Linked DNA regions of Homo sapiens. The protein of the gene in region 3 interacts with the protein of the main gene of each other region in a biochemical or structural test. Each region holds a gene or a part of one and is shown on either strand. Other genes may lie near its edges.

Region 1 (4,569 bases), on a different chromosome or scaffold from region 3:
TGCCTTGGCCTCCCAAAGTGCTGGGATTACAGGCGTAAGCCACTGCACCTGGCCAAAAATTCATCTTTTTAATATTTAAAAATTTCCTTAACTTTGGGTCAAAGTATACCACATGTATCTATCTGTTTATTTAGAGACGGTGTCTTGCTCTGCTGCCCAGGCAGGAGTGCAGTGCTGCCATCATAACTCAGTGCAGCCTTGAATTCCTGTGCTCAAGCGATCTGCCTCAGCCTCCTGAGTAGCTAGGACTACAGGCATGTGCCATTATACTTGGCTAATTAAAAATAATTTTTTGTAGAGATATAACTTAATTTTTTTTTTTTTTTTGAGACGAGTCTCGCTCTGTCACCCAGACTGGAGTGCGGTGGTGTGATCTTGGCTCACTGCAACCTCTGCCTCCCAGGTTCCAGTGATTCTCCTGCCTCAGCCTCCCAAATAGCTGGGATTACAACAGGCATGTGTCACCACTCCCGGCTAATTTTTGTATTTTTAGTAGAGACGGGGTTTCACCATGTTGGCCAGGCTGGTCTCGAACTCCTGATCTCAAGTGATCCACCTGCTTCAGCCTCCCAAAGTGCTGGGATTACAGACGTGAGCCACTGTGCCTGGCTCGATATAACTTAATTTTAAATATGGAGAGGCCAAACAAGGTGGCTATGCCTGTAATCCCAGCACTTTGGGAGGCTGATGTGAGTGGACTGCTTGAGCCCAGGAGTTTGAGACTGGCCTGGGTAACATGGAGAGACCCCTTCTCTACAAAAAATACAAAAATAAATAAGCCAGGAACAGTGGTGCATGGCCTGTGGTCCCAGTTACTTGGTGAGGCTGAGATGGGAGGGTTGCTTGAGCCTGGGAGGGTGAGGCCACAGTAAGCTGAGATCATGCCACTGCACTCCAGCCTGGTGACAGAGCAAGACCCTGTCTCAAAAAAATAGATAAATAAATATATAAATAGGCAGAGTCTCTCAGTACTCATTTCTTTCTAATGCCGGACTAAAAAAAGTTAAGGGGCCCATTAAGCAGCTAATAAGCTACCATTTATTGCTTCATTCCTGTCTTTTCTATAGTTATAATGGGGCAGACTGTCCGAAGAATAGGCAGGCTGGGGAAAGTTCATGGTTACCACAGCTGATACAACAACAGCAACAGAACGTGAGTTAATCCACATGGTGAATATAGTGTAAAACCTGAATTAGAAAAAGCAGGCTGGGTGAGGTGGCTCATGCCTATAATCCCAGCACTTTGGGAGGCTGAGGTGGGAGGATCACTTGAAATCAGGAGTTTAAGACCAGCCTGGCCAATATGGTGAAACCTCATCTCTATTACAAATACAAAAATTAGCCAGATGTGGTGGTGCTCACCTGTAGTCTCAGCTATTCGGGAGGCTGAGGCTGAAGAATCACTTGATCCTGGGAGGCGGAGCTTGCAGTGAGCTGAGATCGCGCCACTGCACTCTAGCCTTGGTGACAGAGCGAGACTCTGTCGCAAAAATAAAAAAACAGGCCAGGCACAGTGGCTCACACCCGTAATCCCAGTACTTTGGGAGGCTGAGGCGGTTGGATCGCTTGAACCCAGGAGTTCAAGACCAGCCTGGGCAACATGGTGAAACCCTGTCTCTACAAAAAATACAAAAATTAGTTGGGCGTGTTAGTGCATGCCTGTAGTCCCAGTTACTCCAGAGGCTGAGGTAGGAGGATCACCTGAGCCCAGGCTGGAGTGCAGTGGTGCGATCTCGGCTCATTGCAACCTCTGCCTCCTGGGTTCAAGCAATTCTTCTGCCTCAGCCTCCTGAGTAGCTCAGACTACATGTGCGCACCACCATGCCCCTCTAATTTTTTGTATTTTAGTAGAGACGGGGTTTTACCATGTTGGCCAGGCTGGTCTCAAACTCCTGACCTCAAGTGATCCACCTGCCTCGGCCTCCCAAAGTGCTGGGATTACAGGCATGAGCCACTGCACCCGGCCAGAAATTATTTTCTTAAGGCAGGAAGAGGTGAGGTTAGAGTTAGCATTTCTCAACAGAATGTTTTGTTTTGAAATGTTTATATCCTAGCAATTGAAACCAAAATGTCTTCCAACATATCAGTAAATCAATAATATGTGGTATGTGTTGGGTGCAAAGTACTGTCTTAGGTGCCTGGGAGAAAAAGATAGCAAACTAATATATATATATGCTCTTGAGTCTGTTTTTGGGACTGGCCTACCTGAGCAAATGTCTTGCAATGGTGGATCTATCCACAGTGACTCTGGAAGATGGCAGCACCACAGGGTCACACATCAGTGTGCTCATAATGGGATCCAGGAACTCATCACAGGCATCTGCATAGGTTTCCTCTTCCTGTTGTTGGAGGTCTGCAAGAGACTGAGTATACAACATCTGGTAGTTAAAGTGAATTCACAGTGTAGCTGAATTCAGCGTGCTCAATGACAGAGCAAGACTCCATCTCAAAAATAAAAAAACAGGTCATTAATAACCCTTGACAGTGACAGTGACACACGTGAGCTTCATTTTCTCAAAAACAAGCCAAGATATTCTAAGAACAAATTAAGCATTGAGCCCCAACTCTGGACCTTTAGGTTGGCTCAGCTGCTGGCAGTCATACTGGAAATGGGTTTAAATGTTAGGAGGAAAAGAAATACATCAGATATAACATCCATCTGGCAACAGTTCTGTTGTAAATGCCATAATTCAAAAGTGGATGGAGAAGGGAGAATGGAGGAGGGTATTATTTGCATAATTAGAGTCACTCATGCAGCCTGCGTATGAAAAGCAGTTTTTGATTTTTGATACAAACAGGTATAGGAATTTTAAAGTCATTTTGACATTTAATTCCTTCACAACTTGAGTTCCTCAGGGATCCACCTGGCTAAGCTCTAAACAAAGATGAAGTCCAACTCAATAAAAAAGAAACTCAATAGAGGGAAGACTGACAGCAATAAGGAAGGTTTTCTATTAGACTTTTGTGCCATGATCTTCCTTCTTCTTACCTGCTAATAGAGCTCTGTCATACTCTAACCAAAGGGATTTAGCTAAATACAATATAGTATTTTAATCTTTAAAATGTATGCATATTCCAATAAAAGCCAACTACCAACTACAAACATAGAGACAATCCAAATAAAAATTAATGACTGAAAACTACTCATCTTTTTTTTTTTCTAAAAAGTTATTCTGCATTAACACCCTAGCTTTTAAAATCTATTGGTAACACTGTGCATAAACGTTTTCATAAAAACATCTTACATAAATGTGCACATTCTTCTCTTCTAGTTGAGGTTTCTTAAATTTTTTTTTTTTTCTTTTTTGAGATGGAGTCTCGCTCTTTTGCCCAGGCGGGAGTGCAGTGGCACTATCTTGGCTCACTGCAAGCTCTGCTTCCTGGGTTCACGCCATTCTCCTGCCTCAGTCTCCTGAGTAGCTGGGACTACAGGTGCCTGCCACCACGCCCGGCTAATTTTTTGTATTTTTAGTAGAGATGGGGTTTCACCGTGTTAGCCAGGATGGTCGCTATCTCCTGACCTTGTGATCTGCCCGCCTCGACCTCCCAAAGTGCTAGGATTACAGGCGTGAGCCACCGCGCCTGGCCCTTAAATTTCTTTTTTCTTTTTTTTTTTTTGAGATGGAATCTCGCTCTGTTGCCCAGGCTGGAGTGCAGTGGTTGCGATCACTGCAACCTCCGCCTCCCAGGTTCAAGCGATTCTCCTGCCTCAGCCTCCCGAGTAGCTGGGATTACAGGCGCCTGCCACCACACCCAGCTAATTTTTGTATTTTTAGTAGAGACAGGGTTTCACCATGCTGGCCAGGCTGGTGTTGAACTCCTGACCTCAAGTGATCTGCCCACCCTGGCTTCCCAAAATGCTGGGATTACAAGCATGAGCCACTACTGTACCCAGCCGATTTCTTAAATTTCTATTCTCACTCTCATGTTGACAAGAATAAAACTAAGAATATTGTAGTTCTAAGTGACTGTCCAAAAAGAACCATCTGTTTATATTTTCTCTTGGTAATGCTCTTTTTCTCCCTGAAATAGAGTAAAAATCAGCACAGCTGAGGTGACAATCTGATTTTTTTTGCATGGATTTTTAGGAGATGGGGTCTTGCTATCTTGCCAAGGCTGGAGTGTAGTGGCTATCCACAGGCATGATCATAGCACACTGCAGCTTCAAACTCCTGGGCTTAAGTGATCCTCTAGCCTTAGGCTCTTAAGTAGCTGGGACTACAGGCTTGAGCCATCATGCCTGGCTGACAACGTGGTTCTTAATGAAATCAGCAAACAATTCCTCCTCTTCCTCACCTTGATTCTCTCTGCCAAGTTGCTGAAAGCCATAATCATATTCCCAGGCTTATTTATTTTCTTCAAGACTCGAACTGTCTGTGCAAAGAGAGTTGGGGAATAGGAACGTCCATCCTTGGGCACAGTGGCACAGAAATTCTCCTCATCCCTGGAACATTAGCATCAGAAAAAAACTGATCACCAGAGGGTTGGTCAATGGAAGAGACAATAGGTAGGCTGCAGAACAAGCATTCTCACCACTTAAAAGCCATGAACATTCTTTTGATATAGAAAG
Region 2 (4,569 bases), on a different chromosome or scaffold from region 3:
TGCCTGTTGGCTTGTTGTCACCACCCCAGTGCTCAAGAAAGGAATACTAAATGCCATAGCAAATTCAAAACTCTGCTGAACCCTGACAACTAGGAAGGTTTGTATTAGGATTAATAAAACAATGATCAAAAATCTTGATACTAGTACAACTCTGACTCATTTACTGTTTGATGCCTTGAATATTTAATAGGTATCTTGATGTTGCTCAAAACAAAGCCCTTGATTTTCCCATCAGCCTCCTTTTCTCTCCACAAACCTATTGAGTCCTACAAAACTCCTGCCCCTGCCCCCTCCTTGCCTTCCCAGCTCCGTGTACAGCATTACCATTTTTCAAGGGGTTCTAGTAGCTGCTGTAGAGCCATCCTTGACTTTCTGCTCTCACTCCTGCATCTAATCCTTCAACATAAGGATCCTTCTATATTGGTATCACATCCAAAGCATAACCTGAATCTGTCCACCTCTTCCTACCTCCACTGATTCTACTGAGCGCAAGCTTCCACTGCCTCTACCTTGGACAGCTGCAAGAACCCTCTATCTGCCTGCTTCCATTCCTGTGCCAGCAACTCAGAGGCCTTTCCTGACCCTGATCTAAAGGAACAACCCCACTCCCAGCCACTCCATGAATTCAGCATGTTATCTTCTCAGCACTTTATGCTACCCAGAAGTATCTTGTTTATATGTTCTCTCTCCTCGTTAGAACTTAATTCCATTAGATTAGGATCTTTCTTAAAGCCTGGTTCTATAAAATCTCTAAATCTGATTCTCCCACTTCTTGGGGCTATAAAATTAGAGAGATATTCATCATTGCTTTGACATGGGCCCTAATAGTATTTGATGAATGAATACATTTTTATTTTATTACAGTTTATGTGTTCAATGAGAAAAAAGTACCTGATTAAATCTCTGGGCGTTTTCCAGAATTTTCCTTTCTTCCTTCAGACAGCTGTAAATGATCATAGACATCTGGATTGGGTCTTCCTGAAAATTATCCTAGATTTGAGTGGTTAGAACAAAAATAAATTAAAATGCAGAATGTTTACTTTATTGTGTATTGTAAGTTGATATGAATTTGTTTATATTCTCCGGGAAACCTCATCTCTCATCTATTAAATTCTATATAAGCTATGTTTGTTAAAATCAAAATATTTCTTTCACGAATTATGACAAAAATTGCTTTAACTTTCTAAGTGCAGGTACCTAACGTACTTTTTGATTTAAAAACAAGTATTTTCACATATGGTTCACATAATATTTTTACTTTAATATCTTTCCATATTTCTTAAGGCCAATTATCTTTGGTTAGGATCCCGAGACAATGCAAATGATATAAAAACTATACATGACATTCCTCAATGAATGCATCTGTTGGTCTAAGCTTTGAACTAGACCAAAGATATTCATCTAGGGTTTTCTGTTGCCATTGTCAAAGCTAGTTTGCAAAACACTACCAATAGCAATAATGGCTCTTTATACAGGTACATTCATGCAAGGTCTGTATGAGAACAAATTTCTGTAAAGTTAATTTGATTTCCCCACTCGTAAATAAAATCATAAATACATTCACAAAGGAAAAAAAACAACTTCCAATTACCTAAGCTGAAAAGTTCAGTTGTATTGTATGAAAGAAGAAAATGATAGCTTTCACCTCCATTAAAACAGAAAAGTTCTGTTATTACACAACATAAATATGATAGCCACCCCAAGGGCATGCTGGGAGTACATCTGAAGAACCCCTAAAACTCTATAGCATGTTCTCTCATGTCTGGATCTTTCTTTGACTTTCTCTTCCAGGAGAGGCCAACTCCACCAGAAGCAAGGCAAGGTGGAGTCTAGTTCCTGAAGTCACCTGACTTCCTTAGGTGAAAGTCAAACCTTTCCTGTTTTATTCCTCATTTGCATAGCAAGGACCTGAACCTAACCACTAATGTTCCCTGGAGCTTTAATGTATTACTATAGATCATTGCTCTTAAAATGTAGCCCCTTTTCTTTGGTTTAAATATTGACAATTTTTAGTAAAACAAAATTATAGCATCACATTTTTCTCAGGATTACTGATACCTAAGAGGTGATACATTTAACCCTAAAAATTCCTTCTGTGTTTATAAAATAAATTGGTATCTTATTTTACTTATGCTATATTTACTGATGCTGTAGAAAACATAAATGGAGTTAGTCTCTATTACTTCTCTAAATACCAATAAGTGTGTGCTCAATTGTATTTGCTGAATGAAGAAAACTGCCTTCCATAAACATGAGAACATTTCAACTAAAATACAAAAACCAGGTCATACCTGAAGATTACGCTTGCTTTTCCTTATGTTATGCTGTAGCAAGAAGTTATTCTCCAAAGAAAAGCGACTATATTGATCATCCAGCTGTGACAGGAGGTCATGAAAACGGATGGTGGCAAATGAAACATCATTGGCAGCGTGCTCCCTAGGAGATTTAACATTTACACATTTCATTCTAGAACTAAATGTCTATGTAAAACAGACAAAACAAATGTTGGTTTCCTTATTGAAATTATTAAAAATAATTTAAGTATTTTCTTAGGTTTATTTTCTTCTTTTGAAACTGACATTGCTTTTAGCAGCAGTTTATGTGGTATTTCTCTTATGTGCAATTAGCACAAAAAATTCTAAACTCTAAGAGATTGTGCATGACAGTGTTCATGGTGACTATCTCTGAAGGGGGAAAAGTCAACAGGGGACCCTTCACTTTCTATGTCAAATACTTTCAGGACGTTTTTAAATTAGCAAATAATAAATTTTAAAGTAGAACACCTATCAGTTAAAAAAAATCCCCTTAATTTTACTACCTTCTTCATATTTCTAATCAATGTTTAACCATTAATTTGGCTTTATTTCTTTTAAATTACTTCTTTCTATAGTCTGGATCCTAAGTTGGAAAATAATCGGTGTCAGTATTCCGTAACTTGTCCAAAGCATTTAGGAATATCTATCATAAATTAAATTTGGCAAAACTGTATAAAAGTGCTTAATGACTAATATACTTAACTTTGTTGAGACACTTTTTGGCTCAACTTTGTTGAGTCATTTTTTAAATCAACAAACTTTTCTACAACAAATAATTCCAGTGGCCATTGATGGAATTCATCTTCCAGTAAACATGGCCCCAAGTCACTTAATCAACCAGTACTTTTAAGGTGTAAACTTCTTCTTCTGTCTAGTGAATTTTCCTTACCAGTCTTGCTTTTCTAACCACTGTGCCAGGTACTGTCTGATTTCCATGGGAAAACTGTCATCATAAAGCTGGTGAACCTGCTCCAGGAATTTTGAGTCAAGCTGCTGAAGTTCGTACCACTGAGACATCCTATAGGGAAAAAGAATATACATTCTTTCTATGTATATGGAAACCATAGCTCCAAAGAAAGCCTTCCTAGCATCAGGTTGTACTCTTAAATATCTTGCTTAATCCAAAACATAGTTTGTCCCAGGAATATTTTATTTAAATGGCATTTATAGTCTAAAGCCTGTTTTTAATTGAGTTTGGGGATGAACTTTTTTTCTCCTCCACGAAACACATCTTCATGTCTTTGCTTATTGTCAACATATCAGGGCAGCCTTCTCTGGCCTCTTTTATTTAAACTGCAACCACCTCCCACCCTGGAAACATGCTCTCTCTTTTCCCTGGTTTATTTTTCTTCATAGTACTTACACCACCATCTGACCTACCACATATTTTATTTTCATTATTGTCTGTTTTCACCACTTGAAGGGATGGATGTTGGTGGAGGATTCTGTGCACTGGTGTATCCCTAGAACAATGTCAACCACATAGTAGGTATCCAATAAATATGCCTTTAAAATGAGTTTGTGATTTTATCAAATAAATACATGAAAAACATTATTTTAATTAGACTTGCTTTAAGACAAATCACAAGACTCTCCCAAAATTGCTCTCCTACAAATCACAGTACATTTGTAATTTAACTCAAATATTTTCAAACTTCTGTTTTATATTTATGATTCATATGGTAAAATTCATTATTTTTCTTATACACATTTAAAAAGATATATTTTCTTCTTTGCCTACTACAAACAATAAATCTGGCATAAAGAAGTAATGATTTTTAAAGATTAAAACATCATTAAATGTAATTTAAAAGGATAAAGTAACACTTAGCTTTTTGGATAACTGTTAAGTCCATTTTTACATAGTGATCCTAAAGATTCAAAATCACAACAAAAACTTGATATAAGCAAGTCCTAAAATTCATTAGGAAAACGGAGAGTCTCCCATGACCATCATGTAACTTAGGATTTATATCAGCACACAGGTGGCAATATGCAGAGCAGACACAAGTGAATCTTGTCCTGCCAGACCTCTGGGGAAGGAGTCTGGATTTTCAAGTAGGGCATGGAAGAGTGTGTATGCATACTTGTAGCCGAGCACATGTATGCAGGCATGAGGTCACGCCTACTCCACAAATGTCCTTCCAAAGGAGTGTGAGGAAATGTCTGGCCTATAAAGCTAGTTATCCTCATATATACCAGTAGAAACGGACCCAAGCCCAGCCCCTTGGCACTCCTGCTGAAGCAATTTGAT
Region 3 (5,102 bases):
CTAGTAGGCACTTTGGATGGCACCATGCCAGCACGGGTTGAGTTGATGGGCAATTTGGATGGTGCTGGATTGGTGAGCGCATTAGAAGGCACTGCACCAGGGGGCTTTGAGCTAGTTGGCAACTTGGAGGGCACTGTGCTGACAGATGCTGGGTTGGCAGGCACTTTCAGGGCCACTGTGTTCACAGGCATCAAGGTGGTAGGCACTTTGGAGGGCAGAGAGTTGGCAGGTGCCTCTGCCCCACTGGAGCAGATGATAGGCTCGGCCTGGTCACTCTCTGCACCCTGTTTACCCTCTGCAGCCCCTGCAGAGGCCAAGCCAGGGGATGAGGAGGAGAAGGAGGTGCCAGTAGATACAACTGACCCTGTGGGTCCAGGCAAGCGGCTTGCCCTGGGGGTGGAACGGGCCAGGGGCTGGAAGGAGACAGATGGAGACACAGGCCCACGGGATGGTGTGAGGCTGGAGGTCGCACCTGCCGGTGGAAAAACACAAGTGGAAACACAGACCCAAAGACCATTACCTTGAGGCCTGGAGAAGGGTCCCTCTGGCCCAGATCTCATGGTCCCTACTGTGTCTAGGCCTCCAAATCTCCTGCCCTTGGAGGAGATGCCACAGTCCCTTTGGTCACTGCTTCCTGGCCTGAAAGCCCAACAGCTGCCCTCAGTCCTTGACCTGTAGCCCCAGGTCTGTCCTGGCACACAGTGAAATGGTACCTAGGAGCCTGAAGACCATTATTAATTATTCTCTCCGCTTTTTCCTCTCCCACCTGGGAAACCTCCCCTCTCCTGTGTCTACCTTTTCTACTTTGACCTTAGCCTCATGCAATCCTGGACACTTCCCCCACTGCTGTCCCTCTCCTACCACCATGAGTGGGAGCAGCCATGGATCAGGGCAAGGGGTGGCAGGATGGCTCATGCAGAACAGCTCACACCAGCCGAGAGGCCTGGCCATCCCGGAGGCTTGGGAAGAGAGGGGACAAGGACAAAGCCACCCCTGGGAGGCTGCCTGACCTGGGTGGGGGAAGCAGAGGATAGCAGGTGGTGATGGTCTGTAAAGGCAGTTGCAGCAGGACTCTCCACGGAACTCGGAATGCACATGCCAAGCCCCACAGCTGGCAAAAGTCAGGGTGATTCTGATGTACAGCTCCCCCACCACAATCTAATACCACAGAATCTCATGGGACCTGTGTCTACAAACGTACTGAAACCTAAGCGCCCTCTGCCTCTGTGGTCTACAGCAACTCCTGAAAGGCATCCCGTGGCCAGGTGACACTGCAAAGCAGACAGGTGCTTGGAGCAGTTTGGGGATGACAAAAGTACTAAGATGACGTCTCCCAGCCTCTAACTGCTCATGTGTCTTGTGGCTGTCCCAGGGCACTGAGGGCTGACTGGGCACCAGCGTCATGTGGAATAGTTTGGGAAGTAGGAAAGAGACATGCTGGCCTGAGAGGTCCAGATGGACAACTATATATTTCTGAGGGGGAGCACTGACATCTGGAGTTGAGTCCAGGCCACTGGATGATGAAGACCTTACTTCCTCTGGGGACTGAGAAGTTTTCATGATTCACTGGGAACTGGAGATCTCTGCGGTAAGACAGTGCCTAAAGGTTCCCCTGCCAACAGCTGATGCAGCCCTTCACTGTCCCTCTCCCACTGCCCTATAGGCCCTGGCTGTTCCCTACAGTCCCTTTGGCAGAGCGCAAAAATGGCCCTACTTATCTCGCTCATCTCCACCCAGCCCCACTGCACTGTGCCTGTCAGTCCTCCCGTCTAGGGAGGGAGTCTATTTCCCTACTCCTTGAATCTAGGCTGGCCTTATAACTTGCTTTTGCCCACAGAATGGAGCACAGGGGACACTGTGCCAGTTTTGAGCCCTCTCTGAGAACTCTGCCCAGCTGCCATGATGGGTTTGTGTGCTGGAGGATGAGAGACTACATAGAAGAGAACCAAGGTGCTCAGCAAACAGCCAGAGGCAGAACTTATGTATATACCGGTGAGTACTTGAGAGGAAATTCAGCCAAGACCAGAAGAAATGCCCATGTAGGTAGCCCAAATGCCTGACCCACAGGATCATATGCTAAATAAATGGCTGTATTTTAAGCTACTAAAAAAAAAATTTGGAAAACTGGAGTGGACTATTTGTTACACAGCAAATGCTAACTGATACACCCACTAAGGAACTGGTTTGCTTCCTGGGTTGAACTCCCTTTATTCCCACCTTGTCTCCTGTTCAAGGAAGCCAGATGGGGCAACTCTAATTCTTACCCTCACTTGAGAGATCAGAAGGACCCTATAATTCCAGATTCCATGCATACCTGCTGTGTGGGTACTGCCCAGTTCTGTGTCCTGCTCCTGATGCCCGCTGGAGGTCAGAGGGCTGAGGGCTGCCAGGTCAGAGGAGGACTCCAGGGGGCCACCATCTGGATTCCTTGGGATGGCTCTGGGGCTGAGCGTCTGCAGGGCTTGCTCTGAATTCTGCAATGAGGGAAAATATGAATAAGGCAGTTGCCTCTCCCAAGAGCTCACAAAGGGCAGCTTGTGCTCTTGGGGCATCTCCTATAGGCCTCAGCCCACACCATGGAGCACAGGAGCCAGGGGAGCCCTTGCCTGGGTTCTGGTAATTCCCAGACCCTCTGTCCACAGGTGTCCTTACGTCTACCTCACAGAAAACACACAGCATTGCCAGGTGCGGTGGCTCACGCCTGTAATCCCAGCACTTTGGGAGGCAAAGGTGGGCAGATCACCTGAGGTCAGGAGTTCGAGACCAGCCTGGCTGACACGGCAAAACCCCATCTCTACTAAAAATACAAAAATTAGCTGGGCGTGGTGGTGGGTGCCTGTAATCCCAGCTACTCAGGAGGCTGAGGCAGGAGAATGACCTGAACCCAGGAGGCAGAGGTTGCAGTGAGCCAAGATCACTCCACTGCACTCCAGCCTGGGTGACAGAATGAGACACTGTCACACACACACACACACACACACACAAAACTGTGGTCTCCCAGCTGGTTGCTGACAGAGGATTAGGGCTGCCACAGGGTGAAGACCTGGTCAGCAGCCTGGAAGCTGGTCTGGGGCAGATCCCCACTGAGGAAGCCCTAGGGTTCTGAGCAGAGATTAGGCGTGATTTATAGGGGACGGGAGAGGGTTTCTGGAAGGCTCAATGGGCAGAAGTGGGCAGATAGGAACACAAAAGTGGTGGCTCAAGGTAGACTATGAGGACAGACCTCTCCTGGGGACTCTGGCGCCTGGGTCTCCTGGACAGGCATGGGGTAACTTGGCTCCTTCTCTCTGCAGCTGTTGTAGGGGATGCTGTGGGCCGCAGCAGGTGTGGGGGGCCCTGGCCTCTCAGCAGGAAGTGACGGTGGCTCCAGTGGGTCTGGGGGACGGTCCGAGGTCCCTAGAGGACAAAGATGTAGTGATATCAAGAAGGAATCAGGGCTGGGCACAGTGGCTCATGCCTGTAATCTCAGCACTTTGGGAGGCCAAGGCAGGCAGATCACGAGGTCAGATCGAGACCACCCTGGCTAACACAGTGAAACCCCATCTCTACTAAAAATACAACATTATTATTAGCCGGGCATGGTGGCGGGCCCCTGTAGTCCCAGCTACTCAGGAGGCTGAGGCAGGAGAATGGCGTGAACCCGGGAGGCGGAGCTTGCAGTAAGCCAAGATCGCGCCACTGCACTCCAGCCTGGGCGACAGAGCGAGACTCCGTCTAAAAAAAAAAAGAAAGAAAAAAAAAGAAGGAATCAGGGGCTGGGCACGATGGCTCATGCCTGTAATCCCAGGATTTGGGGAGGCCAAGGCAGGTGGATTAGGAGGTCAGGAGTTCAAGACCAGCCTGGCCAACATAGTGAAACCCCGTCTCTACTAAAAATACAAAAATTAGCCAGGCGTGCTGGCAAGCACCTGTAATCCCAGCTACTCAGGAGGCTGAGGCAGAAGAATTGCTTGAACCTGGGAGACGGAGGTTGCAGTGAGCTGAGATCGCGCCACTGCACTCCAGCCTGGGCAACAGAGCAAGACTCCGTCTCGGGGGAAAAAAAGAAAAAGAAGCCAGACGTGGTGGCTCACGCCTGTAATCCCAGCACTTTGGGAGGCCGAAGTGGGTGGATCACCTGAGGTCGTGAGTTCGAGACCAGCCTGACCAACATGGAGAAACCCTGTCTCTACTAAAAATAACAAAATTAGCCAGGCGTGGAGGCGCATGCCTGTAATCCCAGCTACTCGAGAGGCTGAGGCAGGAGAATTGCTTGAACCTGGGAAGTGAAGGTTGCCATGACCTGAGATTGCACCATTGCACTCCAGCCTGGGCAACAAGAGCGAGACTCCGTCTCAAAAAAAAAAAAAAAAAATAGAAGGAATCAGGGACTATAGGGAGGCTGAGGAAGGAGAACCACTTGAACCCGGGAGGCAGAGGTTGTGGTGAGCCGAAGTCATGCCACTGCACTCCAGCCTGGGCGACTGAGCAAGACTCTGTCTCAAAAAAAAAGGAATTGGGGGTTCTCCTCATGATTAAAGAGGCTTGGGTGCTCTTGGGTACACCCCCCGCCCCACCCATAGGTCCAAAAGCTGTTCTGATGTGGGCCCACTCCTCAAGAGTGACAAGCAGGGCTGGGCTTGGTGGCTCACGCCTGTAATCCCAGCACTTTGGGAGGCCGAGGCGGGTGGATCACGAGGTCAGGAGATCGAGACCATCCTGGCTAACACGGTGAAACCCCATCTCTACTAAAAAATACAAAAAGTTAGCCGGGCATGGTTGCAGGCGCCTGTAGTCCCAGCTACTCGGGAGGCTGAGGCAGGAGAATGGCGTGAACCCGGGAGGCGGAGCTTGCAGTGAGCTGAGATGGCACCACTGCACTCCAGCCTGGGCGACAGAGCGAAACTCCATTTCAAAAAAAAAAGGAGTGACAAGCATCACTTGGCAAGGGGGCAGGAGTGGGAGGGTGAGAGCAGATGGAGGACAAGGTAGCAAGGGAGGAAGGGGAGTATGGGGGGGCCTCGTGGGTCTCTAGTCACCCACGCCGTGTCAGCAGTCACTCTTCTCTGTCCCCAGGCATCCTAGGACCCAGTGGCTTTCTCCTCCACATGACTATCATTGCT
Region 4 (4,569 bases), on a different chromosome or scaffold from region 3:
ACTCCCTTATTCTTCTGGAAATTTGAGCCACATGAACTTATTACGGTTCCAAAAAAAATAAAACTTGAAGTAAGTAAATTTTGAGCAGAGTAGCATCATTTAAACTAGTGTGTGGCCTCTCAAGGAACAATCCTAAATGAAATCTAACTGATTTGGGGGAATATTCATTTTTAAATTATGGCTTTCAGTAATAATTAACTTTTATTTCTTTTCTGCCCCCAGTTCTTGATTTAAACTGACAAATAAAAATGGTCTATATTTATCCTGTACAACATGATGTACACATTGTGGGATGGCTACATTGAGCTAATTACCATATACATTACCTCACATACCATTTTTGGTGGTGATAATTAACTTTTATATAAACATATCCTGCACAATGCATTATTTCTTTAATCAGTAAAACAAAAGCTAAAGAATACAGGGTAATTCTACAAATCTTCATCATATCCTTTAATTTTTACTGGAAAAATTTTTGTGTAATTTATTAGGTTCACAATTTCAGCTACATTCTTATGCTTTATGCTCAGCTGTTGTTTTTTTTTTTTTTAAACTTTTTTTGTTTTGAGACAGAGTCTCACTCTGTCGCCCAGGCTGGATTGCAGTGATGCGACCTCTGCCTCCTGGGTTTAAGCAATTCTCCCACCTCAGCCTTCCGAGTAGCTGGGATTACAGGCGCCCGCCACCACACCTGGCTAGGGTTTTTAGTAGAGACAGGGTTTTGCCATGTTGGCCAGGCTGGTCTGGAACTGCTGGCCTCAACTGATCCACCTGCCTCGGCCTCCCAAAGTGCTGGGATTACAGGAGTGAGCCACTGTACCCGGCCACATTCTTACGCTTTAAAAACAAAAATTTATATTCAGGTTGTAGTAACATTTGTCAACAACAAATTTTCACATATTTCCTCCTGACTTGTCATGTGTACACGTGTTTTATTTGTTTACTAACACACAGCATTCTCAGTGTAAGTGCGTATATTCATACAATAGTCTTACTTCTGAACACAGAGCAGATGACACTGACACAGCATTGTATTTAAAGATGTGAAGGCTCAGAATCCACATGAAGACTTAACAGCTACTCTATCTATTAACAGGTCCTTGGAGCACAGACCACTCCCCTACTCGTGCTAGGTCCTGACAGGCCTTCCTCTCGGAAGAGAAACAACACAGATCTCCCAGGCCCGGTGATGGGGCGCCAGGGAAACAGGGTACGTGAAGAGAAAGGAACAGACAGGCTCCCTCCTCCATCCAGGTGCCCCGGGCCCACTCACCACTGCACGGGCTGCCAGTTGGGGAGGAAGGGCCGGAAGCCCGTGATGCACTCAAAGGCCAGGGTGCCGAAGCTCCAGTAGTCGACGGTCACTGTGTACTTCTGCTGCTCCAGTAGCTCTGGGGCCTGCAGCAACAGGAGGGGGTACACCTGAGCTGCTCCTCTCTGGGGGGACCACGGCAGGAGGGGGCGGCCAGCCCATCTGCTTTCACCCCTGGCTTCATCCTAGAGGGCACTGGCACATGCATGCAGGGCGAGGAGGGCACCCCAGGCATGTTTAGCGGGTATATCATGCTACCATTTCTAAGACCTTTCTATGTCCCACTCACTCCAGTAGGTACTGATGGAGGGGCTAAAGATTCAGGGCCAGAGTACATCACACACCCATCGCTAGGCTTTAACTTCTCTCCTTTAAAACTGAGGGTTGCAGGCTGGACGCAGTGGCTCACACGTGTAATCCCAGCACTTTGGGAGGCCGAGGTAGGCGCATTACTTGAGGTCAGGAGTTTGAGACCAGCCTGGCCAACATGGTGAAACCCCGTCTCTACTAAAAATACAAAAATTAGCTGGGCATGGTGGTGTGCACCTTTAGTCCCAGCTATTCAGGAGGCTGAGGCACAAGAATCGCTTGAACCTGGGAAGTGGAGGTTGCAGTGAGCCAAGATCATGCCACTGCACTCCAGCCTGGGCAACAGAGTGAGACTCTGTCTAAAAAAAAAAAAGAAAGAAAGAAAGAAAAAAAAGGAAAAAAAAAAAAAGGGTTGCAGCATTTCAGGCGCTTATTGAAAACTAGCTTAAGGCAGGACACAGTCGTGGGCACTGTGTAGAAATGGGAAGAGAGGCTACAAATGTTAAAGGAAAATGATGCCAGGCTGTCCACACCAAATACACGCATTAAGTGCTGGTTGAACCCCTGAACCAGGTACCATGTGGTTGCAGAAAGGGCCAGGATATTTAGAAACAGGCAGGGAAAGTGTGATGCATGGCTGCTGCTGAGGCAGAGAGCGCTGGGGTGACCGAAGAAGGGGCGGCAGCACGGGGTGCTGGGGGTGCAGACTGGGCTTAGCAGGTGGGTGGAGACAGAAATGACTGGGGCAAGCAAAAGCACAGAGACAGGGTGGTGCATGGTCTGGTTGGAAATGTGAAGCTTAAGGAAGGGCCCGGGAGACCAAACCAAGAGAAGACATTCCGGGATGGGTAGGTCAACCTCTATGTCTGGTTATGGGCAGACGTTTTAGCTCATGTGAGTACATGACTTGACTCAGCTCCTGGTTAGAGCATGGGGTCCCCCTTGCTCGACTGCTGCTGAGCTGAGGAGGACTCCAGAAGGATCTACCAAATCACATGCCATATGGACACAGGCGCCTGAATCACAGCCCTCTGTGAGACCCACTCTGAAAGCCGCAGACTCCTTGAGTCACTCCCAATTGTGGTGGCTACTGCCATCATCAAGCAACCTATGACAAGTCTTGCTGGGCATTTGTGCTAAGCCCTCCTGGAATCTAATTGCCCTCTACATCTTCACTGCCCCTACCTCACCCACTCTTCCCTCCTGTTCAGTGTGATTCCTTCTCCACACAGTGTCAGGAGTGGGCTTTCCAAAGAGTTGCTCCTTCTCCCACTTAAAACCCATCAATCTCTGCAGAGGTTTTAAGATAAAGTCTAGAACTTTAGCCCAGCCCTGAAGGCCCTTCATAATCTGTGCTCTACCTTGTTCTCAGCTTCAACTCAAGACTCTCTTTCCCTTTTGTGCTCGGTTCCAGCCACACCTGCAGGTCTTCCTGTGTGTGATCCCTTTGCACGGAATTCCCCCTGCCGTCCCCCACCTCCAGCCCTTTTCACCTCCTTACCCTTCAAGTCCCAGACCAGGCTGAGGCCACCCAATATATATTCTTGCAACACCCTGCACTCTTGCTTTGTAACACTCACCACAACTGTAATTTCTTAGTTATCTGTGTAAGCATCACAGTAATGCTTGCTTTCCTGCTAAACCCTAAGCTCTGAAGGCCGAAAAGGGCTTGTCTTTTTTCCCCACTGCATCACCAGCCCTGAGCACAGTGCCTGACACAGACTACACTCCATCAATATGCTTGAATGAATGAGTGACTCAAACAGAAACCTAATATTCAGACCAAATAACGTAAACAAAGGGTGGGGAGCTCAGAGCTCTGACCCCTACTCAGTGGCCCCTGAAATACCTCATGGAAAGTGTGGCCTCGGCCAGGCTCAGTGGCTCCTGCCTGTAGTCCTAGCTGCTCAGGAGGCTGAGGTGGGAGGACCGCTCAAGACCAGCATGGATCTGTTTAAAACCCTTTCCTTTCAGAGAAGACACTGAAGCACAGAGAGGCTAGGGGATGGTGCAAGGCGCATGAGCAGAGCCCTCCGGACATCAGAGAAGACGACCACATCCCTCCACAGGGCATCTGGTGGCAAAAAATGCTGACTCGACCAGGTTATGGGTGTGACCTCATGCATCTCCAAAACATTCAGAGAGCCGGTGGGACTCAGGTGCTGGGAGCAAGGCAGGACAGGAGCCCCACAAATGCAGCAGCAGGGAGGAGCTGACAGGCAAACAGGCAAGGCCCACTTCTTACCAGGTACTGCAGGGTCCCCACGAATGATGTGCAAAGACTGCCCTGATCCAGCTCCTTGGCATATCCTAGGTCAATAATTTTGTGTATTAACTAAAACAAAAGGAAGGAGAAAGCTGAGGGTTATAAGAACACAATGTCCTTCTACGAGGATTCTGACTGCCTGGTGTTAGAGCAGAGGTATTTCTGAATTCCCAGGTACTATTAGATCCCAAACTCCTAAGAGCCACCAGATACACAAAAGAATGCCCTCGACACGGTAGATTCAGGGCTAAAAGAAAAGGCATATTGTAAAAATGCTAGGCACGTGTCCTCCCACACTCTGCCACGCATCATCAGAGGGAAGCTGAATGAACAGAACAGGCACCAGCCCTCAAGACAGCTAAACCCAGACTTGAAACAGGAAGGACCGGGCCAGCCTCTTCTCAGTAAATGCCCTCAGTTCTCAAATCTGAGCACCACTGACAGGAGTGAGGGTGAACTGGAACAAGGGCGAGCCCTGTGGTAGTCACAGGCCAGGCCTAGGTGCTAAGGGCAGCTGTATGGGAAGGGATTAGGTGATCTAAGAACTCATTCACTGTATTCCACTCAGCTGAGCCTGTGCTCACCACCCCAGCTGAACACATAGAGTGGGTGGGTAAAGACCACAATGTCAAGCTTGTGGGGCAGTCAACACCACGTCTGAGCCGGGTGGCCACTGAGG

Evidence for each region.
Region 1: the proteins of MAVS (region 3) and UBE4A form a complex in vitro, tested with the Homo sapiens proteins (one study listed by BioGRID).
Region 2: the proteins of MAVS (region 3) and STAT1 form a complex in vitro, tested with the Homo sapiens proteins (one study listed by BioGRID).
Region 4: of the proteins of MAVS (region 3) and IKBKB, one has a biochemical effect on the other in vitro, tested with the Homo sapiens proteins (one study listed by BioGRID).

The regions. Positions count from the first base shown.
Region 1 is NC_000011.10:118,390,531-118,395,099, reverse strand, and holds part of UBE4A (ubiquitin conjugation factor E4 A), read right to left. Parts: intron 4,444-4,569; coding exon 4,296-4,443; intron 2,363-4,295; coding exon 2,205-2,362; intron 1-2,204.
Region 2 is NC_000002.12:191,006,672-191,011,240, forward strand, and holds part of STAT1 (signal transducer and activator of transcription 1-alpha/beta), read right to left. Parts: intron 3,779-4,569; exon of another isoform or gene 3,701-3,778; coding exon of another isoform or gene 3,696-3,700; intron 3,334-3,695; coding exon of another isoform or gene 3,333-3,333; coding exon 3,205-3,332; intron 2,473-3,204; coding exon of another isoform or gene 2,437-2,472; coding exon 2,292-2,436; intron 991-2,291; coding exon 892-990; intron 1-891. UniProt on the Homo sapiens protein: Signal transducer and transcription activator that mediates cellular responses to interferons (IFNs), cytokine KITLG/SCF and other cytokines and other growth factors.
Region 3 is NC_000020.11:3,859,626-3,864,727, reverse strand, and holds part of MAVS (mitochondrial antiviral-signaling protein), read right to left. Parts: intron 3,397-5,102; coding exon 3,224-3,396; intron 2,475-3,223; coding exon 2,315-2,474; intron 473-2,314; coding exon 1-472.
Region 4 is NC_000008.11:42,305,733-42,310,301, reverse strand, and holds part of IKBKB (inhibitor of nuclear factor kappa-B kinase subunit beta), read right to left. Parts: intron 3,960-4,569; coding exon 3,870-3,959; intron 1,402-3,869; coding exon 1,277-1,401; intron 1-1,276.